Homo sapiens: one gene and its partners. The protein of the gene in region 4 purifies or fractionates together with the protein of the main gene of each other region. This does not show direct contact. Each region holds a gene or a part of one and is shown on either strand. Other genes may lie near its edges. The genes, in order: HAVCR2, DDX46, KDM4A, POLE and RCBTB1.

Region 1 (6,025 bases), on a different chromosome or scaffold from region 4:
TTGATTGTGATGATGGCTTCCTACTGTAATTCTCCATCAAAATTCATCAACTTCAACACACTTCTTTTTTTTTTTTTTTTTGGAGACTGTCTTATTCTGTTGCCCAGGGTGGAGTGCAATGATGCAATCACCGCTCACTGCAGCCTCCTGAGCTCAAGTGATCCTCCCACCTCAGCCTCCTGAGTAGATGGGACTACAGGTGTGTGCCACCATGCCCAGCTCATTATTATTATTATTACGTTGTAGAGGCAGGATCCTGCTTTGCTGCCCAGGCTGATCTTGGTCTCAAACTCCTGGGCTCAACTGATCCTCTCACCTCAGCTTCCGAAAGTGTTGAAAATACAGGCATGAGCCACTGCACCTGGCCATTGTATTTATTTATTTATTTATTTGCTTATTTATTTATATTTTATTACTTTTTTTTTTAAGACAGTCTCACTCTGTCACCCAGGCTGGAGTGCAGTGGCATGATCTGAGCTCACTGTAACCTCCACCTACCAGGTTTGAGTGATTCCTCTGCCTCAGCCTCCTGAGTAGCTGGGATTACAGGCATGCGCCACCACACCCGGCTAATTTTGTATTTTTAGTAGAGATGGGGTCTCACCATGTTGGCCAAGCTGGTCTCGAACTCCTGACCTCAAATGATCCACCCCCCTCAGCCTCCCAAAGTGCTGGGATTACAGGCGTGAGCCACTGCGCCGGGCCTGTTTTTTTGTTTTTGTTTGTTTGCTAGTTTAAAAAAAAAAAAGGGATAAGTAACTTAGAAAAAGCTATGTGCTAAGTACCATGATGGAGGAAAACATTCTCTAACCCCAGTCACGACCCAGTGTTAAAGGGACTTGCAGTCTACTGCCAGAGAGGTATGCCTGAGAAACCAATAACAGAAAAGTGCACAGAAGGAAGTGTTTTTTGTTGTTGTGTTTCGTAACAAACCTAGACATATTCATGAATTAAAGAAATTAGTTTACTGGAATCAGCCTGCCTGGATTTGATTTCCGGTTCTGCCAGGTACTGATGTTGAAACCTCGGGAAGGCAGCTTACTCTAAGCTTGACTTCCCTTCACTGTAAAATGGGGATGGTACTATTCCTTATCTCATAAGACAGTAATGATGATAAAATGTATGTAAAACATTTAACGCAGTGGCTGCCTGACACACAATAAATATTAAATAAAAATTAGCCATTATTGTTAGGATTTGGATGGACAAAAGGGTATTTAGTCTAATCATCTTTGGGTATAAACATGAATTTGCATTTCTATCTAGGTTTTTACTGGTTCTCACTGAAGAATTTGTTATCAGAGGGAGAGAGAAACAAAAACACTTACATTTGAAAATTAAAGCGCCGAAGATAAGAGCCAGAGCCAGCCCAGCACAGATCCCTGCTCCGATGTAGATGCCTATTCTGATGGTTGCTCCAGAGTCCCGTAAGTCATTGGCCAATCTAGAGTCCCGTAACTCATTGGCCAATGTGGATATTTGCTATGGAAACACAAACAGGATTTAAGCAGAAAACAGCTAGAAATCGCTTGTGTAATCAGCTTCAAGATTTGTGAATTGGACCATCCCTTTTACAACATCACAGGATGGCTGAGTCCTTCAAATCACCTTTGATCTGTCACCTTGTAGCCAACACTCAAGCCAACCCAAGAAAGGGTCTCCCTTAACCTTTGGAGTTAGCAAGGAAACAAAATGTGCCCTTCTGTGTTGTGGGTAGAGAAGGAGCTCTTAAAAAAAAAAAAAAAAAAAGAGAGAAGGAGCTCTTAAGACCCTTTCCCTGCCCCTGCAAAAATTGGCTTTAGAGTGGAGTCTTGTTGGTTCAAGATCCCCTAAGATTCCCCAGAGAGTTTTAGAGTAGTTTACATTTAGTGTCTTGCTATGAAACGTCTATTTTTCACAAAAAGACAGTGATTCAATAGCCAAGACTTTACAGCCAGACGGTCGTGGATTCAAATCCCAGCTCTGAGGCCGGGCGCGGTGGCTAATGCCTGTAATCCCAGCACTTTGGGAGGCCTAGGCAGGCGGATCACCTGACATCAGGAGTTTGAGACCAGCCTGGACAACATGGTGAAACCCCGTCTCTACTAAAAATACAAAACTTAGCCAGGCGTGGTAACACATGCCTGTAATCCTAGCTAGTGGGGAGGCTGAGGCAGGAGAATCACTTAAACCCAGGAGGCAAAGACTGGAGTACTCGAGTTGAGATCATGCCACTGCACGCCAACCTGGGCAACAGAGCGAGACTCCATCTCAAAAAAAAAAAAAAAAAAAAAATTCCCAGCTCTGCCACTAAGGGCTGAGTAATCCTGTAGAGTTATCAGGAAAACTAAGTGAGAGAAAATATAAAATGCTTAGTACAGGGCCTGGTACATAATAAATGTTCAATCAATCGTAGCTATTATTGCTATTGCTCTAGTTAACTTGATTTTCTGATAACTGAGAGCCACACAAAATAAATCCTGTTTCTAAAATTTCAGTCTATGGGTTCTCTCTTTTTCTCTCTTTAAAAACAATGATTAGGCCAGGTGCGGTGGCTCACGCCTGTAGTCCCAGCACTTTGGGAGGCCAAGGCAGGCAGATCACGAGGTCAGGAGTTCAAGACCAGCCTGGCCAACATGGTGAAACCCCATCTCTACTAAAAATACAAAAATTAGCCAGGTGTGGTGGCGGGCACCTATAGTCCCAGCTATTTGGGAGGCTGAGGCAGGACAATCGCTTGAACCCAGGAGGCAGAGGTTGCAGTGAGCCAAGGTTGTGCCATTGTACTCCAGCCTGGGCGACAAGAGCAAAACTCCATCTCAAAAATAAATAATAAATTAATAAATAAATAATAATTATAGGCCAGGCTCACACCTATAATCCCAGCACTTTGGGAAGCTGAGATGGGAGGATCACTTGAGACCAGGAGTTAGGGACCAGCCTAATAATATTGAGACCCCATTTATACAAAACACACACACACACACACACACACACACACACACACATATAATTATAAGCATTTTTAAAACAATGAATTTAAGGAAGTTAAATCTTCCATTTATTCAATATACATTTACAAATTGATTCAATACACATTACTCCTGCAATAACAGGAGTCCTATATGCAAGATATTGTGCATTAAGCATTGTGGGCACATACAGGTCCTTAAAAAGCACTGTTTGATTGCAAAGAGAGAAGGAGCAAATACAAGATGCTGAGCATCAGTTGTGAATACACAAGCAAGAAACTGAGTCAAATAAATGTGGGCTCCTGGATATGCCCTCAAGTAATTTTTTTTTTTTTTTTTTTTTTGAGACAAGGCCTTGCCCTGTCACCTAGGATGGAGTGCAGGGGCATGATCACAGCTCAATGCAGCCTCAACCTACTGGGCTCAAGTGATCCTCCTGCCTCAGCCTCCCAAGTAGCTGGAACTACAGGTTTGCAGCACCATGCCTGGCCAAATTTTAAAAAATATTTTTTGTAGAGACAGGGTGTCACTATGTGGCCCAGGCTAGTCTCAAACTCCTGGTCTCAAGCATTCCTTCCACCTTGGCCTCCTAAAGTGCTGGGATTACAGGCATGAGACACTGTGCCCGGCCTCCTCAAAGAATTTTTAAGTCATTGCTGCAAGCTTGCCTTCTAGTGGTTTTTCTTTTATGAGGGAATTTCGCTCTTGTTGCCCAGGCTGGTGTGCAGTGGCGCGACCTCAGCTCACTGCAACCTCCACCTCCTGGATTCAAGCGATTCTCCTGTCTCAGCCTCCTGAGTAGCTGAGACTACACAGGCACACACCACCATACCTGGCTAATTTTTTGTATTTTTAGTAGAGATGGGGTTTCACCATGTTGACCAGGCTGGTCTCAAACCCCTGACAGGTGATCCACCCTACTTAGCCTCCCAAAGTGCTGGGATTACAGACGTGAGTCACTGCGCCCAGCCAGTTTTTCTTTTATTCTGAGAAGGTAGCAGGGACAGTAAAATTGAGGTTTATTAAGGTATGGCTTTATTTATAGTTAAATACATAAAACTGGCTGGGCACCATGGCTCATGCCTGTAATCCCAGCACTTTGGGAGGCCAAGTTGGGCGGATCACCTGAGGTCAGGAGTTCAAGACCAGCCTGACCAACATGGAGAAACCCTGTCTCTACTAAAAATACAAAATTAGGCCAGGTGCCATGGCTCACGCCTGCAATCTCAGCACTTTGGGAGGCCGAGGCAGGTGGATCACCTGAGGTCAGGAGTTCAAGATCAGCCTGGCCAATGTGGTGAAACTCCGTCTCTACTAAAAATAAAAAAATTAGCCGGGTGTGGTGGCTCATGCCTGTAATCCCAGCTACTCGGAAGGCTGAGGCAGGAGAATCGCTTGAACCCGGGAGGCGGAGGTTGAGGTGAGCCAGGATCACACCCTTGCACTCCAGCCTGGGCAACAAGAGCGAAATTCTGTCTAAAAAAAAAAAAAAAAAACCTCTTCACTTTGAATATTCCTGACTGGTGTCTTGCCATATTTAAAGAGATAAATTTAAATACTCTTTCCCATTAGGATTGCAATGGAAGCAAGAAGAATGGTATTCTAGGGAGATGAAGAATCTTTGAACCTTCCACAGGGTAGACAGTTGTGAAATTGAAGAATAAGAGGGACAAAATGCTAATGTTTCTTCTTTGTGGTTTTCAAGCTCTTACTATATGCCAGGCACTTTACACACATCATGTCAGTCCTTCATTACAGCAGGCCTATGAGGTTAGAACTGTCATCATCAACATGTTACAGCCCAGGAATCTGAAGCTAAGGGAACTTAAGGCTTTTTACCCCAAGGACAAGGTGGGCATGAAGGAAGTCTAAAGCCATGATTTCCCCTCCAAGTTGAGTACAACATAGCTCACAAAAAAAGTTACTTACTGTTAGATTTATATCAGGGAGGCTCCCCAGTGTCTGTGTCTCTGCTATAAAAAGAGAGAGAGAGAGAGAGAGAGGAAAAATAGCCAATAGTATAGTTAAGAACGTTTTCTTTTATCTAAGTTTTTAAAAAATCTTAATGATGCCTATAATCCTATTTGAAATGAATTCTACTCCGTACTTGTCACAATAATTAATGGAGAGACAGACAAAATTTACTGAACACCCAGGAATCAACTTTAGGATGGCCACATTTTTTCATCTAGATAATGAACCGTACTGTTTTATGAAATAGAGACTTCTGCCAGGAAGTCCTACATTAAATATGTGCTTTGTTTTTTTCACAGGACCCTAATGAGTTCTACAAACATCTAGCAATATTGATAAGACTCAGGCATTATTTATTTATTTATTTATTTAGACACAGAATTTCACTCTGTCACCCAGGCTGGAGTGCAGTGGCATAATCTCAGCTCACCGCAACCTCGGCCTCCCTGGTTCAAGCAATTCTCATCCCTCATCCTCCCAAGTAGCTGGGACTACATGCATGCACCACCACGCCCAGCTAATTTTTGTATTTTTAGTAGAGACGAGGCCATGTTGACCAGGCTGGTTGTGAACTCCTGACCTCAGGTGATCTGCCCACCTCAGCCTCCCAAAATGCTGGGATTACAGGTGTGAACGACCAGGCTTGGCCTCAGGCATTATATTCTAATTAGATTTTAAAAGACAACAAAAATTCATTTCCTTCTTTTTTGTTTTTTTGAGACAGTCTCACTCTGTTGCCCAGGCTGGAGTGCAGTGGCACAATCTCAACTCACTGCAACCTCCATGTTCTTTTTCTTTTTTTTCTTTTTGCGAGACAGAATCTCACTCTATCACCCAGGCTGGAGTGCAGTAGCATGATCTCTGCTCACTGCAACCTCCATCTCCTGAGTTCAAGCGATTCTCCTGCCTCAGCCTCCCTGGTAGCTGGGACTACAGGGGCACACCACCACACACAGCTAATTTTTGTATTTTTAGTAGAGACGGGGTTTCGCCATGTTGGCCAGGCTAGTCTCGAACTCCTGACCTCAAGTGATCCACCCGCCTCGGCCTCCCAAAGTGCTGGGATTACAGGCGTGAGCCACCGTGCCGTGCCCAGCCTC
Region 2 (6,025 bases), on a different chromosome or scaffold from region 4:
AGAGTCAACTGTGTTTTCATATTCCATTAACAAACACCTGGAGGCTGGGCATGGTGGCTCATGCCTCTAATCTCAGCACTTTGAGAGGCCAAGGCAGGCAGATCACGAGGTCAGGAGATCGAGACCATCCTGGCCAATATGGTGAAACCCCAACTCGGCCGGGCGCGGTGGCTCACGCCTGTAATCCCAGCACTCTGTGAGGCCGAGGCAGGTGGATCACATGAGGTTAGGAGTTCTAGACCAGCCTGACCAACATGGTGAAACCCTGTCTCTACTAAAAGTACAAAAATTAGCCGGGCTTGGTGGCAGGCGCCTGTAATCCCAGCTACTCAGGGGTGGGAGGCCGAGGCAGGAGAATCACTTGAACTCGGGAGGCGGAGGTTGCAGTGAGCCGAGATTGCACCATTGCCCACCAGCCTGGGAGACAAGAGCAAAACTTCACCTCAAAAAAAAAAAAAAAACAAACAAAAAAAACAAACCCCGTCTCTACTAAAAAATACAAAAATCAGCTGGGTATGGTGGCACGTGCCTGTAATCTCAGCTATTCAGGAGGCTGAGGCAGGAGAATAGCCTGAACCAGGGAGTCAGAGGTTGCAATGAGCTGATATTGCACAACTACATTCCAGCCTGACGACAGAGCAAGATTCTGCCTCAAAAAAAAAAAAAAAAAAAAAACCTTGAAAATATAACGAAAAAAATTAATCCCATGACACTAATGGGAAGCATTACTAAATATTTGGAAATTCAACCCAAGAAAAACTGAACATACTACATACAAACAATATAGTTTGTTTATAGGTAGGATAGTTAAAATGTGATAAATGAAGAAACAGACCAATATATTAATATTCTGCAAGATAATTTATATATGTAATAACGTTTAAAATCCCAAGGGACATGCATTTCGAATGTTCTAATGTTCTAATGATTTTAGGGGATTTTTTTGAGACGGAGTCTCTCTCTGTCGGCCAGGCTGGAGTGCAGTGGCGCAATCTCGGCTCACTGCAACCTCCACCTCCCGGCTTCAAGTGATTCTCCTGCCTCAGCCTCCCGAGTAGCTGGGATCACAGGTGTGTGCCACCACACCTGACTAATTTTTTACTTTTAGTAAAGACGAGGTTTCACCATGTTGGTCAGACTGGTCTCAAACTCCTGACCTCGTGATCCATCCACCTCGGCCTCCCAAAGTGCTAGGATTACAGGCGTGAGCCACTTCACCCAGACTTCTAATGATTTTTTAATGTTAAAATAACCTGCCATTCTTGGAATAAACCCAACTTGTTTACGCACCCCAACTTACGGCATCTCATAATGAATAAAATTTCTTAATTTTAATGTAATCAAATTAGTCAACCTTTTTTCTCCTTTATAATTGGTGCTTTTTAAAGTAGTTTAGAAATCCTTCCAGATTTGATGTAAGATACCTAGAGGTGAAGAAGAAGATACTCTCTGGCACAAACTTCTAAAAGGTTTAGAATTTTGCCATCTAATTTGGTCTTTGCTTGGAATTGCTTTTTGTACACAGAATAAGGTAGGCAGTCTTATTTCATAAAAGGATACTAGATATCCCTAGAGCAATTTAAAAATTTTTCTGGCCAGGCACGGTGGCTCACGCCTTTAATCCCAGCACTTTGGGAGGCCGAGGCGGGTGGATCACGAGATCAGGAGATCGAGACCATTCTGGCTAACACGGTGAAACCCCATCTCTACTAAAAAATACAAAAAATTAGCTGGGCATGTTGGCACACACCTGCAGTCCCAGCTACTCGGGAGGCTGAGGCAAGAGAATTACTTGAACCCGGGAGGCGAAGGTTGCAGTGAGCCGAGATTGCACCACTGCATTCCAGCCAGGGCAACAGAACGAGACTTTGGCTGTTAAAAAAAAAAAAAAAATCTTCACTTATTACATCATCACCTCTGTCATCTATCAAATTACCATGTGTATGGATGCCTTTCTGGGCTCTTTACATGGTTCACTAATCTGTCTGTCCACTGCTAAACAAATTGCACATTGTCTTAATTTCTGTTAACTTTTTTTTGTTTTTTTTTTTTGAGAAGGAGTTTCACTCTTGTTGCCCAGGCTGGAGTGCAACGGCATGATCTCACCTCACCGCAACCTCTGCCTCCTGGGTTCAAGCGATTCTCCGGCCTCAGCCTCCAGAGTAGCTGGGATTACAGGCATACGCCACCACGCCCAGCTAATTTTGTATTTTTAGTAGAGACGGGGTTTATCCACAATGGTCAGGCTGGTCGCCAACTCCCAACCTCAGGTGATCCGCCCACCTTGGCCTCCCAAAGTGCAAGGATTACAGGCGTCAGCCACCGCGCCTGGCCTAATTTCTTAACTTTTAAGACAAGTCTTGGCTGGGCGCGGTGGCTCAGGCCTGTAATCCCAGCACTTTGGGAAGCCGAGGTGGGCAGATCACTTGAGGTCAGGAGTTCGAGACCAGCCTGGCAAACATGCCAAAACCCCATCTCCACTAAAAACATAAAAATTAGCTGGGATATTATGTCTGCCTCTTCATATAATCCCAGGACTTTTGGAGGCCTAGGTGAGAGGATTGCTTGAGTCTACAAGTTTAAGGTTAGTGAGCTATGTTCTTGCCACTTCACTCCAGCCTGGGCAACAGAGTGAGACCCTGCCTGAAAAGAAAATGACAGAGTTTCTACAAAGATGTCTATAAAATACATTTCTGATTGACAGTTATGTATTAAGTAAGAATACAATGTATTGAATGTTAAAACTGACAGAATCTATTATTTTCCAGTTGAATTATAAACATTATAGCCAATTAAAATAAAACACTGCCAACAGTTCATGGTAGGAGCCAAATGCAGTTAATTCTCTATAAATACAAACTTACAGGGAAAAAAAAAAAAGGCGCAGAGAAGGGAAGCAGTCCCCAGTCTGCACTATAGATGCAGCCCAATGATAACATTACCTATTCTCAGTTTTCTTGCTTTTATTTCCAGGACTGGAGGATCGGGATCGCCGGCCCCGGCTTCTACTCCTTGAGCGTCTCCTGTCTCTACTTCGAGATCTTCTTCGCTCTCGGCTTCTGTCTCTCTCTCTACTTCTGGAACGTCTGAAAGGGGGACACTTTTCATTTATTCTATGACCAAATGGAGCTACTATTTCAGATCAGGGGATTCTGTCCCACATTGAAAGAATCTTAATCACTACCATTATTAAAGGTGGAGGTCTCAATGAAGTAAAGCCAAGTCTTATAAGTGCTCAACGAAAAAAATGAGAATACTAATTTATTTCTTTCATTTTTTTAAAGACAAAGTCTCACACCTGTCACCCAGGCTGGAGTGCAGTGGCACAATTGCAGCTCACTGCAACCTCTGCCTTCTGGGTTCAAGTGATTCTCCTGCCTCAGCCTCCCCAGCAGCTGGGATTACAGATGTGCATCACCATGCCCGGCTAATTTTTTTTTTTTTTTTGGAGACAGAGTTTTGCTCTTGTTGCCCAGGCTGGAGTGCAATGGCGCAATCTCAGCTCACCACAACCTCCATCTCCTGGGTTAAAGCGATTCTCTTGCCTCAGCCTCCTGAGTAGCTGGGATTACAGGCATGCACCACCATGCCCAGCCAATTTTGTATTTTTACAGATGGGGTTTCTCCATGTTGGTCAGGCTGGTCTCGAACTCCCAACCGCAGGTGATCTGCCTGCCTCAGCCTCCCAAAGTGCTGGGATTACAGGCGTGAGCCACCATGCCAGGCCAGAGAATACTAATTTCATAAAGATGTTTGTGAAAAAACCATAATAAGTCTGTAATTAACATCGATTGAAAATCGATGGTCTAAGATAGAATATCTAGTTTCAGATAGCCTAAACCTAAGTATAAGGATGGGCATAATGGGTCTACTAAAAGATCACTAATCTGAAGATGAAGAGGCAAGAATTTCTATCCTGCTACTCCTGGTAACTAATGACATGATGAAGGTCAGATCTCCAACTTTCTGGGTCTCAGTTTCATCATCTATAAAATATGGAGACTTCACTAGACATCTTTAAAATCCCTCTTGCTCTAAAATCTTGTGATTCTACTTTCACACCCAAAAGTCAAAGACCAAATGTTAAATAACCATTTTCACTTAAGTACTTGAATTAATTGTGTGAAATTGTTCCTAGGACCACAAAATGTGAAAATGCTATCCACATTGTCACGGGTGAATATTTTCCCTGAATCCTACGTAACAACAATGTACTCCAATGTCTGAAAAGGATAAAGTTAAATTCTTTCTATGATCCACTCACAACACAATCTTGTCTTCCTTTCCTATTTTAATGAGAAACTGGGCAAGGTATGGTATCTCATACCTGTAGTCCCAACCCTTTGGGAGGCCACTAGCAACACAGTTAAGACCCCCATCTCTATGAAAAGCTTTTTTTAATTGGCTGGGTGTGGTGTGCACAGAAGATTATTTTCTTTTTTTCTGTTTTGAGATGGAGTCCTGATCTGTCGCCCAGGCTGGAGTACAGTGGCACCATGTCGGCTCACTACAACCTCCACCTCCCAGGTTCAAGCAAGTCTCCTGCCTCAGCTTCCCGAGCAGCTGGGTTTACAGGCATGCACCACCACACCTGGCTAATTTTTTTTTTTTTTTTTTTTTTAGTAGAGACGGGGTTTCACCATGTTGGCCAGGCTGGTCTCAAACTCCTGACCTCGTGATTCACCCACCTTGGCCTCCCAAAGTGCTGGGATTACAGGCATGAGCCACCATACCTGGCCAACTTTGTCACTATTAAAAATACAAAAATTATCCAGGCTTTGTGGAGCATGCCTGTAATCCCAGTTACTCAAGAGGCTGAGGCATGAGAATCACTTGAACCCGGGAGGCAGAGGTTCCAGTGAGCCTAGATCGTGCCACTGCACTCCAGCCTGGGTGACAGAGTGAGACTCTGTCTCAAAAAAAAAATAAATTAAAAAAAAAAAAAAGATTAAGGCGCTCTTTAGTTTAAATCTATGACAGCTCATTAAAATAGTTTAAGAGGCTTGGAGAGGGTCTGCTTTGTTTCCTTTTTCTGCCTGCTTTAGAGGCTGCTCTAAACACACTGTTTAGCAAAATGAAGAAAGAAAGAGAAAGAGAGAAAGAGTGAGGGAGGAAGGGAGAGAGAGTGGAAGGGAAGGAGATAGGGAGGAAGGAAGAGAGAGATGGAGGAAGGGAGGGAGGGAAGGAGGGAGAGAGGAAGGAAATTTTACAAATTTCAACAAGGGTGGCAAAAAAAAAAGGAAAGAAAATTAACACCTTGGTCAGCTCTCCTGGAGCAGAATTGGAATAGAACCCTCTTGAATATAACTTATTACTTTACTTTTTACTTCATTTTGTATGTCCCTCAGAGGGCTTCAAGGGATGTCTTTGGGTTACAGGAAATACAGCCTAAAGTTTCCAAACTAAAAACACTGTTTGATGGTCGGACACGGTGGCTCACACATGTAATCCCAGCACTTTGGGAGGCCAAGGTGGGAGGATCACATGAGGCCAGGAGATCGAGAGCAGCCTGGCCAACATGGCAAAACACCGTCTCTTTTAAAGACACAAAAATTAGACAGGTGTGGTGGTGCACATCTGAAATCCCAGCTACTTGGCAGGCTTAGGCATGAGAATCGCTTGAACCCAGGAGGTGGAGGTTGCAGTGAGCAGAGATGATACCACTGCACTCCAGTCTGAGCAACAGAGTGAGGCTCTGTCTCAAAAAAGATTAAAAAAAAAAAAAAACACTGTTTGATAGAGTCTTTGTAGGCACATCCTTCTGGGTCTAATCAAACAAGTAGGGGATAAAGAAAAGGGCCTGCAATTGGGCCACCAAACTCCAGTTGAAAACATACTTTTCAAGAAGCCTGCTATAGCCGAGAAGGCCCAATTTATCACTCGTCTTTTGGAAATTAATTAATGTCTTACCTCAGACGCTTCCTGTCCCTTGACCGAGATCTTCTTTTATCCCTGCTACGAGACCTCTCTCTCCTCCTATCTCTATCTCTACTTCTAGACCGTCTGTCATCTCCACGTTTACTTC
Region 3 (6,025 bases), on a different chromosome or scaffold from region 4:
GGAGTGCAGGGGCGCAATCTTGGCTCACTGCAACTTCTGCCTCCTGGGTTCAAGCGATTCTCCTGCCTCAGCCTTCCAACTAGCTAGGACTACAGGTGCCTGCCACCATGCCTGGCTAATTTTTTTTTGTATTTTTAGTAGCGATGGGGTTTCACCGTGTTGGCCAGGCTGATCTTGAACTCCTGACCTCAGGTGATCCGCCTGCCTCGGCCTCCCAAAATGCCAAGTGGGATTACAGGCGTGAGCCACTGTTCCCAGCAGAGATGGGAAATATTAATAGCATGGTCCACTTGGGGGAACTGGTGGGGAGTTTCCCTCAATTGAATATTAGGGTGGAAGGCAGCTGTGTGACCAGAAGGTGACGCTGGAGAAATAGGAGATGATGTAGGGCTGTCTGCCATTTTCATTTGCTCACTTGGAAGCTTAAGAAGCCATTTATATTTTAAGAGAGGGAGTGGTGTGATCAGTGCTGTTTAGCAGTCACTTGGAAGGTCATTGAGGCTAGATTTGTTAGAGAAAGGCTTGTATCTGTCTTGGGTCAGGTATGACCCAAAGATGTGGTCTGCCGACAGCCAGGCAGCACTGTGGACTGACACCCTGGGCTGGGCTGGCTTCTCTTCAGCAGATTTTCTTTCCCTTTTTTCTCTTCAAATTTATTTATTTATATTGACAGATAAAATCGTGCATATTTGTCTTGTACAACATAATTTTTTTGTTTGTTTTAGAAACGGGGTCTTACTGTGTTGCCCAAGCCTTTGTGAACACAGCTCACTGCAGCCTCAACTTTCTGGGCTCAAGCAATCCTCTTGCCTCAGCCTCTCAAGTAGGTGGGACTACAGGCATACACCACGCCTGGCTAATTTTTTTTTTTTTTTTTTTTTTTTTGAGACGGAGTCTCACTCTGTCTCCCAGGCTGGAGTGCAAAGGCATGATCTTGGCTCACTGCAACCTCCGCCTCCCGGGTTCAAGTGATTCTCCTACCTCAGCCTCCCAAGTAGCTGGGACTACAGATGCTTGCTACCACGCTGGCTGATTTTTGTATTTTTAGTAGAGACGGGGTTTCACTCTGTTAGCCAGGATGGTCTCGATCTCCTGACATCGTGATCCGCCCACCTCAGCCTCCCAAAGTGCTGGGATTACAGCAGTGAGCCACCATGCCTGGCCCATGCCTGGCTAATTTTTAAATTCTGTAGAGACAGAGTCTGACTTTGTTGCCCAGGCTGGTCTTGAACTCCTGGGCTCCAGCAATCCTCCCATCTTGGCCTCCCAAAGTGCTGGGATTACAGTTTTGAACTACTGCTCCTGGTCCAACATGATTTGTGAAGTATATATAAGTTGTGGAATGGGTAAATCTAGCTGTTTAAAATACATATTCACATAGTGGTCATTTTTGCAGTGAGAACATTTAACATCCACCCTCTTAATATTTTTCAAGATCTTTAGATTTTCTAGCATGGGCTAGGTAGCCAGGTCTCTGCTGAGCTCAGACTTGCATTACCTGCAGGAGACTTTGGAGGAAATGGCAGCTGCCCCTTACTGAGTGTCTGCTGAGTGCCAGGCGGTGCTCAGGAGTCTTATTTATGAGCCCTGTAGATCTGTAGTAGCATCTTCTCATTACAGAGGAAGAAGCTGGAGGCCAGGAGGCTGAGCAAATAGCCCTGGCTCACAGTGCCCCTCAGTGACAGAGCCAGGATTGGAAGCCAGGTCCCATTCCCCGCCCATGTTCCTTGTGCTTTGCCCTCTGCCTTTCATCAGGTTCACATGTGCAGGAGGAACTTGGCTCTGTCTAATGTGTATGTGTGTTTCAGATTATTCTGACTCCACTGAAGTCAAATTTGAAGAGCTTAAAAATGTCAAACTAGAAGAGGAGGATGAGGAGGAAGAACAAGCAGCAGCTGCCTTGGATCTTTCTGTGAATCCTGCGTCTGTAGGGGGACGCCTTGTCTTCTCAGGCTCCAAAAAGAAATCATCTTCTAGCCTGGGCTCTGGCTCTTCACGGGATTCTATCTCTTCTGATTCAGAAACTAGTGAGCCTCTCTCCTGCCGAGCCCAAGGGCAAACGGGAGTTCTCACTGTGCACAGTTATGCCAAAGGGGATGGCAGGGTCACTGTGGGAGAGCCATGCACGAGGAAGAAAGGAAGCGCCGCTAGAAGTTTCAGTGAGCGGGAGCTGGCAGAGGTATGGGCTCCAGGCAGTGGTGTGGGGTGGGGAGCTGCCCTGGAGGACACCCTGTCGGGAGGGGATCTGTGTGGGGGAGGGAGGTGGATCTGTGTGATGGAGGTGCTGCAGGAGGGCAGGAGAGACCCTCAGTCAGTGCCTCTAGCCAGCAGTGGTTGTGTCAAACAAAAGCCTGGGGTGGCATTCACTCTCCCAGCTTGTTCTTTGCTGGGAGTTGCTTTTCTGTTATCCCTGTGGCTACTGATTCCAAGAATTGCATCAATGCAGCCTGAGTCACAGCAGCAGATCCTCCTCAGCCCACTTGGATCACAATGCCTTTTTTTTTTTTCTTGAGATAGAGTCTCTGCTCTGTTGCCTAGCTAGAGTGCAGTGGCATGATCTTGGCTCACTGCAACCTCTGCCTTCCAGGTTCAAGCAGTTCTCCTGCCTCAGCCTCTCGAGTAGCTGGTATTACAGGTGTGTGCCACCACACCCAGCTAATTTTTGTATTTTTAGTAGAGACAGGGTTTCACCATGTTGGCCAGGCTGGTCTGGAACTCCTGACCTCGTGATCTGCCCACCTCAGCCTCCCAAAGTGGTGGGATTACAGGCGTGAGCCACTGTGGCTGGCCTTTTGTTTTTTTTTCTTTTTTTTTTTGAGACGGGGTCTCGCTCTGTTGCCCAGGCTGGAGTGCAGTGGCACGATCTTGGCTCACTGCAAGCTCCGCCTCCTGGGTTCACACCATTCTCCTGCCTCAGCCTCCCGAGTAGCTGGGACTACAGGCGCCCACCACCACGCCCAGCTAATTTTTTGTATTTTTAGTAGAGACTGGGTTTCACCGTGTTAGCCAGGATGGTCTCGATTTCCTGACCTTGTGATCCGCCTGCCTTGGCCTCCCAAAGTACTGGGATTACAGGCGTGAACCACCGTGGCTGGCCTTTTCAACTGGGGTAGGCAGGAACTCTTCCTCTGATCCTCATTGCCTTAGCGGCACCAGGGTTAGAATGGCTGCTGTTGGAGCCCACGTGTTTGGAGGTTTGGGATCAGATGAGATGACCTTTCTTACCTTGAAATTCAAGGGTTTTTTTCTTACACCTCTTGACTGCCCTGTAGACTCCCAGTATGACATTGATAGAGCATCCTTTTGGAGACCAAGATGCATTCCCAAAGCTATAAACACGAACATGTGTGTTCAGGCTTCCTCCTTAAATACATGTTGTCACCAAAAGCTGATTCCTGCTTTTGTGCAAAATGGCTCTTGGTGGGTCTGCCACTCTGAGTGATCAGTCATGTCAGATGCCACTGGACCCCCACTACCCAAGTGACTTTCCCTGACTCCCCAGCCTTGGAGCTTATGTGGGTCAAGCTGCAGTCTTTGGTGAGGGGTGGGAGATAGAAGAAGCCAGTGCAGAAGGTCCTCTTTATTCCCTATTCCCTTACCTTTAGTTTTTAAAAATGTATCTTAAAAATCTTCACTATGGAAAATTTCTGACGTACGTACAAAATACCATCACGAGCCCCCGCGTGTACTCATCATATATATGATTAACATTTGGCACATTTGCTTTCTGTTTTCTTTGGCTGCAGTACTTGACACTCAGTCATATTCACATTTCCCTAGTGTTGCCAATAGTCCCTTTTTATGGTAGGTTTGTCTCCTTGTTGTTGATACTCATAACTTTTCTCGGTGCCTTCTCTGAATCTCAGGGTACGGTTTTGGTAGACTTCTTTTTACCTTGTGAATGTTCCTCTTTCCATCCCACTGTGGTTGCAGGCTAATGAGCTAATAACTACTGTGTTTCCTTCTCATTGCCTCTGATTGCAGTTCTCTGTGCCTTCTTATGGCAGCTTCCATAAAGGAGGGCTTTTTCAGCCTGGAAACCAGAGTCTCTTTAACTCCCAGTTGCCACCTAGCAATTCTTCCTTCGCAGAGGCCCCGGGCCATTTCATCCATCCTACTGTTGACTACTGTTCACTACAGTTCATGCTGTCCTCTTGCTGAGTCTTCCTGACATTCTTGTTTCTAGTTGCAATCACAATCACAAAAAGCAGCTAAGAAGTAGCAAGAGCTCACTGTATATTAAATACTTTGTTTATCTTTTTTGAGACAGGGTCTTGCTCTGTTGCCCAGGGTAGAGTGCAGTGGCACAGTCTTGGCTCACTGCAACTTCTGCCTTCTGGGTTCAACCCATCCTCCCCACCTCAGCCTCCCAAGTAGCTGGGACTACAGGTGCACACCACCACTCTTGGCCAATTTTTGTATTTTTCGTAGAGATGGGGTTTCAACATGTTGCCCAGACTGGTCTCGAAATCCTGGGTTCAAGTGATCCTCCTCCCTTGATCTCCCAAAGTGCCGTGATTTCAGGTGTGAGCCACTGTGTGCCCCACCGCCCCCCAGCTGTTAAATACTTTATATGCATTGTTCAGTCTTTGTATTACTGCTTAATTAATCTTATTACAGAGTCAAGTTTTTGTGGGAATTTTTTGGGGTGGGAGGTGCAGGAAGCCAATAAATAACACCTGTCCTTTTTCCTCTCAATTCGGAACTATTTAATTGATGATACAAGAGTCAGGCATATGGAGCTCAGAATGTCGCTTTATTTACAAGTTAAAATGATTGAAGAAAGTGACTTTTAACCTGTGACTAAATGGCCCTGCTACTTTTTTTTTTTTTGTGGGGGGACTGAGTCTCGCTCTGTTGCCCAGGCTGGAGTGCAGTGGTGTAATCTTGGCTCACTGCAACCTCCACCTCCTGGGTTCAAGTGATTCTCGTGCCCCAGCCTCCCGAGTAGCTGGGATTACAGGCATGCACCACCACTCCTGGTTAATTTTTGTATTTTTTTTAGTAGAGATGGGGTTTCACCATGTTGGCCAGGCTGGTCTGTAACTCCTGAGTGCCCGCCTCAGCCTCCCAAAGTGCTGAGATTACAGGTGTGAGCCATCGCGCCTGGCCTACTCATTTACTCTTGATGTCTCCAGGCCCCTCTAGAGGCAAAGCATTTCCATGGAAGCACTCAGCTTCCATGTGGTGTGGATGTAGGCCAGAATGCACTCCCTCTCCAAAAGACAGATCCTAGTGAAGTGAAGCACAGCTTTCAAGGGGGTGGGGAGAAGAAAAGCCAGGACTCCTTCCGTGTGGAAGTGTGCTAGGGGAAGGGGTCTTCTCTCTGACATGTCTCTCTTTTTCAGTCCTCTGCTCAAAAACCCTTGAGTGTCTTCTTGGTTCCTTTTTATTTCGGTATGTACTTTTCAGGCCGAGCCTGATGATAATACCCTAATAAATAACCCTCTCTGCTCCATCGCCAACCATCCCTCCACCTCCAACATGTGCTGGCTTGTTTGTTTGAACTACTTAAAAGTCTCTAAAACTGTCTTGGCTGCCCTGCCACTTCCCTCTACTTTCTAATCATTTATGGCATGCCTACTCTAGGCCAGGACTGTGCCTTCAAGGAGCTCACAGTCTAGGATAGATAGGTAAGAGCAAATCATTCCAGTACTTAATGATACGTGTTGTGGTACAAGTGGGAGAGTTAGCAGCTCAGCCTGGGGTTGCAGTGTAGAGTTCTGGACTGCCTGAGAGAAGGAAACAGTTTAGGCCTGAGGTTAGAAGAATGCCAGGTGGACAGAATGAAATCGAAGAGAATCTGGGAGAGGAGGGTGTTCTAAATGCTCATGATAACTCATGCCAGGGTCAAAGCACTTGGGGATCTGCAGTGGTTTAGTTTGTCTCAGGCATATAGGACTGGAGAGGGCCTCAGGTGGTGCTGTTGGGGGATGTCAAGAGCCAGAACCTGGAGGGTCTGCCTTGTTGCTCTGTGAAGCAGTTTGACCTAGTTGTGGTGTAGGGAGCAGCAGAAGGGTCCCCA
Region 4 (3,500 bases):
CTTCATCCTAAAATTTCCAGTTTTCTGGAGAGAATATTCTTCAGTGCTGGAGAGTGAATCTGACTCAAAGATATGTTTGCTGCTTTTCCCCCAAATACTTTATTAAAGGAAATATGGAGTTAGAATTTTTCATCAGTTTCTGACAGTATCATTTCCTTTTTTGTTGTATATCACTGTATGACATCAGTGTTTGAGCTAGGCAGGATTTGGACACTCGAGGGAAAGCTGGGACTTCCGTTTGGGTAGTTGATAGTGAAGGGACATGGTGAAAAATGGATTTGTAACTAGAAGGCCTTGGTTCAAACATGACTTTGTGGTGTTGGGAAAGTCTTTGTATTCAGTTTTCTCTTTTCCGAAATGAAGATATCATCTCTGTGCCACAGTTACCTTTCAGAGTTGTCATAACCACCAGAATGAGGTGATGTCTTTTGAAGAGTTTTTCTCCTAAAGTTCTGTGATTTTAGGCTTGTCCTGTGATCAGCTGCTCTCTTAGGTATGTCAGTTTTCATACCATAGGGAGTCGTGATACTCTTGATGTAGGTTGGTTAGTCTTAGGGTCCTTCTCCCAGCTCTAGAGCCTTTTGACTCTTTTAACAACCAGAGGGAGGTAGAGCAGGCTGGGGGTGGGTGTTCAGGGAGGCCTAATGGGGAGTTTAGAGCTTGGCTTTATGCTTATTTTGTCCCCACAGGACCCTGTGGTTTTGGCATTTGACATTGAGACGACCAAACTGCCCCTCAAGTTTCCTGATGCTGAGACAGACCAGATTATGATGATTTCCTACATGATCGATGGCCAGGTGAGCAGGTGGCTTCTGGGAAGTAAGCTCCTGGGATGGGGACCTTGTCTGGTCCCCATACTACAGCAGCATCTGCCCCACTGTTAGTATTTGTTGAGTGAATAATGAGTTAGTCCAGGAATGGGAGCAACCAAGCCGTTCCGACCTCCAGCTGTACCCTCCCCTTTCGAGTGGGAATCCACACACAGAGCGTCTCTTCTCAGGAAGCTTAAAGCACTTTCACATTGCTGTGGACTTCTTTGTAGTGAGAATCTCTAGGCAGAGTGTGTGGGCAGGGTGGGAACGCCATTTCTTGGCTTTGCAGCCTCTGACTTGTGCTGATTGCTAATGAACTTGGCTAGGGCTACCTCATCACCAACAGGGAGATTGTTTCAGAAGATATTGAAGATTTTGAGTTCACCCCCAAGCCAGAATATGAAGGCCCCTTTTGTGTCTTCAATGAACCCGATGAGGTAAGGAGGTATCACTTGGGAAACTACCCGGTATTGTGGGAAGAACGGACATGTGGATCTTTCCAAGGCCTCAGGCATTCCGTCAGATCAGAATTGCAGCTCCATGAGCTTTGTTCTCAGGGTATGACCGTCTTTTCTGCCAGAGACGGGCGGAGGGGCGGGGCAGGAATAAGGGCCAACATGAGGCTGCTGCTTCTGAACTTTGGGAGAGGAATTTGGAATAGCTTGAAGAAGAGAAAGAGCAGACCTCTGACTGCTGTGACTTGGGTTCAGGCTCATCTGATCCAAAGGTGGTTTGAACACGTCCAGGAGACCAAACCCACCATCATGGTCACCTACAACGGGGACTTTTTTGACTGGTGAGTCTGTGTCTTCTCTATGAGTAACTGGGCAGCATTTGAGAGGGAGGGCGTTGCGTGGTGCAGGGGCGCTTCCCATGTCGACTTAGGAGGTGGCTCCTGGGTTCACTCTGCACCTCCCGTGTCTGGGTTCCTCCCTGGGTCTGAGGGAGGAATGGAGAAAGGGGCATTAGAGCCTGACCTGCCCACTTGCTTGTCTGTCCTCTTTCCAACCCAGGCCATTTGTGGAGGCCCGGGCAGCAGTCCACGGTCTGAGCATGCAGCAGGAGATAGGCTTCCAGAAGGACAGCCAGGGGGAGTACAAGGCGCCCCAGTGCATCCACATGGACTGCCTCAGGTAGGGGCCACAGAGCAGCATGGCTCCTCACTGCTGTCCGTGAGCGAGATCTGAAGGCCTCTTGCAGACTGTGCTGTCACCACATCTCATGGGAGGAGGGTGGCCTCCGAGAGGCCGTTTCAGGTCACCCAAGAGTATGGCAGCTGCAACCCTGCCAGGGCCCGGGATGTGCTGTCTTTGACTGTTGACTGACAATTCATCAGTGACCAGGCACATTGAGCATCAGCCTCTGGGGTGGGGAAGCCGCTGGAAAGACGCACTCAGCTGACAGGTCCCAGACCTAGGACCTCATGGAGCTGCTCTGCCCAGGCAAGGTTGGGATGTGGCAGCCCGGCTGCCTCACAGGACAAGCCTCACGGGACAACCACAGATTCCATATGAGCTAGGGTGGGAGGCAGCTCAGAGCTTCGGAGAGTCACGGCGTTCGGGGGCTCTGACATGACTGGTTGGGAAGACAGGTGGATGTGGAAATGCCAACAGAAGGAGGCTGGAAGGGAAGGAAGGGAAGGGAGGGAGGAAAGGAGGGAAGGGAAGGAAGGGAAGGGAGGGAGGGAAGGAAGGGAAGGGAGGGAGGGAAGGAAGGGAATGGAGGGGCCTCCACGGCCTCTGTATTCTGCACAGTGCCACTGGGGTGCTTGCAGCCTGAATGCGTTTCTGTTTAGCTCTGATGCTCAGCACTTGGCTTGGAGAGGGAGGCCAGGAGGCTGGGGCCGGTTTAGCGTGTGACGGTGTGACAGTCCTGATCCAAGGCAGGGAGTGAGGGTTGTGAGGATTCAGGATCTGTCATGTGGGGCAGGGGGAGGCCCAGGGATGCTGGTTCTTAGGGAGGGGTTGGCACCTGGGGTTTTTGTGCCATCCGTGGAGACAGGGAATGGGTAGAGAAGGGGCTTGAGGCAGGAGGTGACCCTGCTACCGATATGCTAGCCTGGAAGCCCCACCCATATGGGGGCCCTGAAGACCACCATGAGGCTTGGTTTGGGCTCGCACTGTAGATTGGGACTCACTGGGTTGCGGGTGGGTCTTGGTGAAAGCTGGGGTAGTGGATGAACTGAAGGCAAGAGGTAAAGTGAGAGAAGAAGGCCACAGGGTGGAGGCTGCGGGGGGTGGAGACCGGACATGACCCCTGGACAGCTGCTCCAGGGAATGCGTCTGTAGGGAGGAGGTAGAGACAGGTTCCGGGTAGAGTGTGGGGGGCCTTCTTTTCTTAATTTTTATTTTTTATTTATTTTTTAAATTTTTATTCTTCTTGGCATCTGATCACATCTTGCCTTCTATTAAAGGAGGGTGGGCTTGAGTGTTTCCGTGCTGAAGGGACAGTGTGAGGAGAGAAGATCAGTGTGGTTGATAGAACTAGGCCCCAGGGGTGCAGACCTGAGGTCTGGGGAGAGGCCCAAGGAGGTGGGGCGCCCGTCGGAGAGGCCACAAACTCTGCTGAGGATGGGAGGAAGGCGAGGGCCGGAAGGACCAGTCCTGGTGCTTCCTTGTGTTGTGGATAGGTCTGTGAGATTAACTAGATCCTGATGAAGGGTTTTCACAAGGTGTCTACACCATGTGG
Region 5 (6,025 bases), on a different chromosome or scaffold from region 4:
TATAATAGAGATGGGGTTTCTCCATGTTGGTCAGGTTGGTCTCGAACTCCCGATCTCAGGTGATCTGCCCGCCTCAGCCTCCCAAAGTGCTGGCATTACAGATGTGAGCTACCACGCCCAGCTTATATTGTTTTTTAAATTAAGAATCTGGTGAATACTCATTTCCATCAGAAAATTTATTTACGTGGTTAAAGAAAATACAAAAGGTTGTTATTGAAAAGTGTATATGCCCTCTTTTAATTATAGATTAAGCAGAAAACTCTCATAGGAATGCTGTGCTTCTGTTTCTAAGGGACATGCAATTACCAATTGAAGAATGTTCTAGGCTCAGCATGGTGGCTCATGCCTGTAATCCTAGGACTTTGGGAGGCCAAGGCGGGAATATCACTTGATCCTAGGAGTCTGAGACCAGCCTAGGCAATATAGCGAGACACTGTCTCTACAAAAAATAGAAAAAATTAGCCAGGTGTGGTGGTGCATTCCTGTAGTTCCAGCTGCTCTGGAGGCTGAGGTGGAAGGATTGCTTGAGCCCAGTAGATCAAGGCTGTGGTGAGCTGTGATCATCCTGGGAGACAGAGTGAGATCTTATCTCAAAAATGAAAAAAAAAGTTTTTAAGATATAGTTCCTTGTATAAATGTGAGGGACCTATGCGTTTATTAGTAACTGTTTGCCACAAAGGTTGCCATTGCAGAAAAAGGCACATAAGCTAAGACCATTAAAGTGGCCATTTACAAGTCTTTTTGGAAATTTAGGTAAAAACCTATTGGCAAAGAAATACATTTGAAAGGAACAGAAAAGCCCTATGTCATTCCTTACCTAAGGGAGTAAATATCTGAACCACAGTATTAATTGAAAAGATGAACTGGAACTGTTTCTGTCTGTGCACCTGTGGTCAACCAGTCTATTCCTTTCATGTACAGTTTTCTGACCATGAAATCCATGATTCTTTCTTAGACAACTATTTCTTTTTTATTTCTCAGGTAATTTTTTATGTAAGTGAAACTATTTTTTTAGTATTCTGAATGGATTCTTTTTCTTTTTTTTTTGAGACAGAGACTCATTCTGTCACCCAGGCTAGAGTGCAGTGGCGTAATACCAGCTCACTGCAACCTCCACCTCCTGTGTTCAAGCGATCTTCCAGCTTCAGCCTCCCAAGTAGCTGGGATTACAATCGTGCACTAACCACGCCCAGCTAATTTTTGTATTTTAAGTAGAGACAAAGTTTCGCCATGTTGGCCAGGCCGGTCTCAAACTCCTGACCTCAGGTGATTGAGGCTGACCTGCCTCGGCCTCCCAAAGTGCTGGAATTACAGGCTTGAGCCACTGCACCTCAGAATACTTTTTCTCTTTGTGCCGTATCTCACTTTAAAATAATTTAAAAATATGATTTTTAGAAAGATACAACTGTGTTATACATAAGAAAATCCAATATTCAGAAATCAGTTTCTTGTGCAGGTGGCTTTGTACATGTAAATACAGTGTAGGAGCTGCTCAGGTTTTCTTGAAATATCTGACTATCCTAGTGGATGTGAGTGTTTTATAAATAAGCTTGTAGCAGGCCTGGGAAGAGAGGAAGGGGAACAGGCAATGCAAAAAAAAAAAAGGAGTGATGGCTGTTTTGACGATAAGTCAGAAAAGAAGAAAAATTGTCGGATAATCAGACAATAATCAGCTTGATGTAATCCAGTTAACATATAAAACAGTTTTAAGAATATGCTTATTATGTAAAACAAAAAACAAATGAATCATTTTAATGTTGATACATAGTCAAAAGTTTTGAACTCTTGTTTCTGAATTTCTTTCACTTTATTGTTTAAAATGCATTTCTGTACATCATTTTAAAAAAAACAAAGGAGCAAAAAAATCTTGGGGACCATCAAATGGAAACAGTAGTGGAAGTGCTAGGTACTTCCAGGCTCTATGTATACCTATTAGTATTTAATAGGAGTTACAAAAAATGAAAGTGAGTGTATGTAAAAGGCATGTACAAAAACCACTTGCATGTGGAATGTTTTTTGGGTGCTAACTAAAGGTCTGTGATCCTGGTGTGTTCAGGCCCAGATAGTAGTTAATATACTTACTTTTTTTTTTTTTTTGAGACGGAGTTTTGCTCTTGTTGCCAGGCTAGAGTGCAGAAGCGCAATCTCGGCTCGCCACAACCTCCACCTCCCGGGTTCAAGCGATTCTCCTGCCTCAGCCTCCTGAGTAGCTGGGATTATAGGCATGCACCACCATGCCCAGCTAATTTTGTATTTTTAGTAGAGACGGGGTTTATCCATGTTGGTCAGGCTGGTCTCGAACTCCTGATCTCAGGTGATCTACCCGCTTGGCCTCCCAAAGTGCTGGGATTACAGGCATGAGCCACCACGCCCGGCCCAAGGATACTTCTGTTTATCTGATTTTATCAACTTAATTAGGTAATTTTTTTTTCTTTTTTAAAAATTGCTGCTGAACAAATAAGACTTTTGCTTTGCTGTTTTAGGTGTGAGCATTTTCGATCCATGTTCCAGTCGTATTGGAATGAAGACATGAAGGAAGTGATAGAAATCGATCAGTTTTCTTACCCAGTGTATCGTGCCTTTCTCCAGTACCTCTACACAGACACAGTCGACCTGCCGCCAGAAGATGCTATAGGTACTGTGGTAGCATTGGGATGGACGAGCCGCATGGTGGAGAATATATCCCCTCATATTCTTAGTCCTGAAATGTAAAAAGCTTCAGGTGTATTGGCTTTAATTTGGTGCTTAAAAAAGATTTGAAGTAAGTATCTTTAAAAGTAGTATTGTGTAGTTATTATGGTTAATAGTTTTGGACCTAGTTTATGACCATAGGCTTTTTTGTTCTAATGTTACTGAAGGACTTTTTTTTTTTTAATTTATTTTTAAGTTCTGGGGTACACGTGCAGGATGTGTAGGCTTGTTACATAGGTAAACGTGTGCCATGGTGGTTTGCTGTACCTGTCAACCCATCACCTAGGTATTAAGCTATGGGCTTATTTTAATTTTCTAGTAGTGAAGTATAAGTTGCTAATGCATTTAGCGTTTTAGAAACAAAATGAGGATTGAAATTGCATTTTTTGCTCTTTCTTTGCACTATTGAAGAAATTGTATAAAGTAAATATAGGAGAGGTGTGGAAGTGGAGGAGGCAGACAGTAAAAAAGAGAATTTATTTACTCAAATTCAGAATCTTATCCACTAAGAAACTTCTAATTTACCTGTACACCTCTGTTCACCAAAACAAAATCTCTGTGTATTGGAAATTATTATACATTTGATTAAACCTTTCACATATTTTACTTTTAGGTCTTCTGGATTTGGCGACATCTTACTGTGAAAACAGACTGAAAAAACTTTGTCAGCACATTATCAAGAGAGGAATTACTGTGGAGAATGCCTTTTCGCTATTCTCTGCTGCAGTCAGATATGATGCAGAGGTAACTTAAACAACAAACAGAAACCAGACCACCTTTAACTCCCTTTGTGCTCGTCTCCCCCGCTTCTTGCGTGAGGCATGGAAAACGATGAGTCACTCCACTTCTGTTTAGGGAATCAGTGAACCCATTGAAAACTGAAATCTGCCCTTGCTTCTTAATTCCCTGTTCATTGTTTCAAAAGTCGTTGTTCCTCTACTTTCATTTCTAAGTAAGACAGGAAACGAACCAAGGTCCTAGCAGCTGTGCTGCAGGTTGGAACATAAGGTGCCACAACTAATTGGACTAACAAACAGCATATTTTAGTTTCAAGTCTTTCTTAATGTCAGCATATGTGTTTATTTCGAGACTTACCTTGCTGTCTTTCCACCTCTGCCCTGTCATAAGCTGGGGATGTGTATGATTTGTATCTGTGTACGCTCTGCAATTCTATTAGTGTCTAATTACAGCTCACAGTTATTTACCTGTTAAGAACTTGCTGTGGACTCCTTTTGTTTTTGCACTGGGTTGAGTTCTTAATCTGAGATTCACAGATCTGTTGAGCCTGTGAATTAATGGGCTTTGGGGAGTCTGAAAGTTTGTGTGCATTTTTTTGAAGAACCAAAGCATCAGACTGTAAGCTCCTCGTGAGCAGGAACTGTCTCATTCGTCTGTATACCCTATAGTGCCTGGCACATATTAGGCACCTGATAAATGTTGAACTGGATGAAGATAGTACCTTAAAGGAAGCATTAAGGATGATCAGTGAGCTGAAGGCGGGTATGGTTGGTTTCACAGATTCAGAGAGAATAAAAGGTAGAGAGCAATAGCCTTGGAGTTTCAAAATATCTAGCTAAGTTGTGCATGTAGAATGTTACAATTAGCCTATCCTTGCAGATACTTTGTCATTTGACAAAGCAGAATATCTGGTATCAAGGAGTTTATCAAACACCTGCAAAGATCTGCAGCTGTGTCCTTTGAGGTATAAGAGGACACACTTCATCACACATAGGGATCAAAGTTGACCACGATGTTTTCAAAATGTATCTTATTTTTGTTTGAGGCTATATTCTGATTATAAATATTTGATAAGGTCAAATGTAGCTGACTTTGTCTGCAGCCCGACAACAGATGGAATGATGATCAAAGTAAATCATTTCTAATAGAAAATGGGGTATGATTTTTTTCCTGTCCTTCCTGTGACACCCTGAACCTCTTTATTAGAAAAGCTGTTTCTTTAGATTTTATTTCCACCCGGTGATATAATTTTAAATTGGGTTAGTGCCTTTTCTGTCCATTTGGTGACGGATGTTAGAATCCTCTCTGGGCCTCTCCACGCTCCTCCTCCTTGTTAACGAGTTCCATACTCAGGATCAGACCTTGCTGACTAACACCAGTGAGAACAACCTGGGCAGAGGCAGATGTCTCGGCTCAAGTTGCTGGAAACTTCTTCCTCACTTTTAGCTAAGATCTGTCCTAGGAAGTTTACAGAAAAAGCCTCTGCTGCTGCTTCCTGTGCCAGCAGGTCATTTCCTTTACTAGTTTTCATTTTTCTCATATTAAGTATAAACATGATAAAAACTTCCTTTAGAAAGACTCCAAATAAGTGTGATTCCCCAGAGTCTGTCACAGTGTGGGCATGGAGCTGGCGCTCAAAAATGCATGTTGAATTAAATAAATGAGTGAAAACATTTGAAATACCTCACCATGAAGGTGTGCTTAAAAAAAAAAAAATGGCCAGGCTTGGAGATCACGCCTGTAATCCCGGCACTTTGGGAGGCCAAGGTGGGCCACTTGAGATCAGGAGTTTGAGACCAGCCTGGCCAACATGGTGAAACCCTGTCTCTACTAAAAATACAAAAATTAGCTGGGTGTGGTGGTGCGTACCTGTAATCCCAGCTATTCGGGAGGCTGAGGCAGGAGAATTGCTTGAATCTGGGAGGGAGAAGTTGTACCACTGCACTCCAGCCTGGGCAACAGAGCAAGACTCTGTCTCAAAAAAAAAAAAAAAGTTAAAAAAAACTTAAAATCCTACAAATATTACAGATTCAACGTAGAAAAATTAGAGAATAGAAAGAAGACAAAAAGAAAGACTCACCTCTTTATTTCTAGGGCATATATATATATGTGTGTGTGTGTGTATATATATATATTCATAATTTGTATGTATTTTTTTTTCCTGGTGATACAGGGTCTTGTTCTGTTGCCCAGGCTGAAGCACAGTGGTGTGATCACAGCTCACTGTAGCCTCAACTTCCTGGGCTCAAGTAGTCCTCCTTCCTTCCCAGTCCAGGAACTGGGACTACGGATGTGTGCCACCACACCCAGCTAATTTCTTATTTTTTATTTGTTGTAGAGACAGGGTTTCATTATGTTGCCCAGGCTGGTCTTGAACTTCTGGGCTCAAGTGTCCCTCCCACCTCAGCCTTCCAAAGTGCTGGGATTATAGGCATGAGCCACTGCGCCAGGCCTCTTTCTAGGGTGTATTTCTTAGGTTACAATACAAGTTACGTAATTGACTAATGTGCTTTTACATTTTATTTCCTGAATGCTACAAGATACAGTGAGTACATGAATGAAGTTCTGGAGTACAAAATTAAAATCCATAGCTGGG

The links.
Region 1: the proteins of POLE (region 4) and HAVCR2 purify together in Homo sapiens (co-immunoprecipitation; one large-scale study listed by IntAct). This does not show direct contact.
Region 2: the proteins of POLE (region 4) and DDX46 purify together in Homo sapiens (co-immunoprecipitation; one large-scale study listed by IntAct). This does not show direct contact.
Region 3: the proteins of POLE (region 4) and KDM4A purify together in Homo sapiens (pull-down; one study listed by IntAct). This does not show direct contact.
Region 5: the proteins of POLE (region 4) and RCBTB1 purify together in Homo sapiens (co-immunoprecipitation; one large-scale study listed by IntAct). This does not show direct contact.

The regions. Positions count from the first base shown.
Region 1 is NC_000005.10:157,093,978-157,100,002, forward strand, and holds part of HAVCR2 (hepatitis A virus cellular receptor 2 precursor), read right to left. Parts: intron 4,925-6,025; coding exon 4,881-4,924; intron 1,483-4,880; coding exon 1,329-1,482; intron 1-1,328. UniProt on the Homo sapiens protein: Cell surface receptor implicated in modulating innate and adaptive immune responses. Generally accepted to have an inhibiting function.
Region 2 is NC_000005.10:134,763,978-134,770,002, reverse strand, and holds part of DDX46 (probable ATP-dependent RNA helicase DDX46), read right to left. Parts: coding exon 5,911-6,025; intron 3,087-5,910; coding exon 2,943-3,086; intron 1-2,942. UniProt on the Homo sapiens protein: Component of the 17S U2 SnRNP complex of the spliceosome, a large ribonucleoprotein complex that removes introns from transcribed pre-mRNAs.
Region 3 is NC_000001.11:43,669,697-43,675,721, forward strand, and holds part of KDM4A (lysine-specific demethylase 4A), read left to right. Parts: intron 1-1,808; coding exon 1,809-2,179; intron 2,180-6,025. UniProt on the Homo sapiens protein: Histone demethylase that specifically demethylates 'Lys-9' and 'Lys-36' residues of histone H3, thereby playing a central role in histone code. Does not demethylate histone H3 'Lys-4', H3 'Lys-27' nor H4 'Lys-20'.
Region 4 is NC_000012.12:132,673,843-132,677,342, reverse strand, and holds part of POLE (DNA polymerase epsilon catalytic subunit A), read left to right. Parts: intron 1-689; coding exon 690-797; intron 798-1,138; coding exon 1,139-1,249; intron 1,250-1,522; coding exon 1,523-1,608; intron 1,609-1,825; coding exon 1,826-1,945; intron 1,946-3,500. UniProt on the Homo sapiens protein: Catalytic component of the DNA polymerase epsilon complex. Participates in chromosomal DNA replication.
Region 5 is NC_000013.11:49,538,286-49,544,310, reverse strand, and holds part of RCBTB1 (RCC1 and BTB domain-containing protein 1), read left to right. Parts: intron 1-2,483; coding exon 2,484-2,635; intron 2,636-3,304; coding exon 3,305-3,435; coding exon of another isoform or gene 3,436-3,444; exon of another isoform or gene 3,445-3,903; intron 3,904-6,025. UniProt on the Homo sapiens protein: May be involved in cell cycle regulation by chromatin remodeling.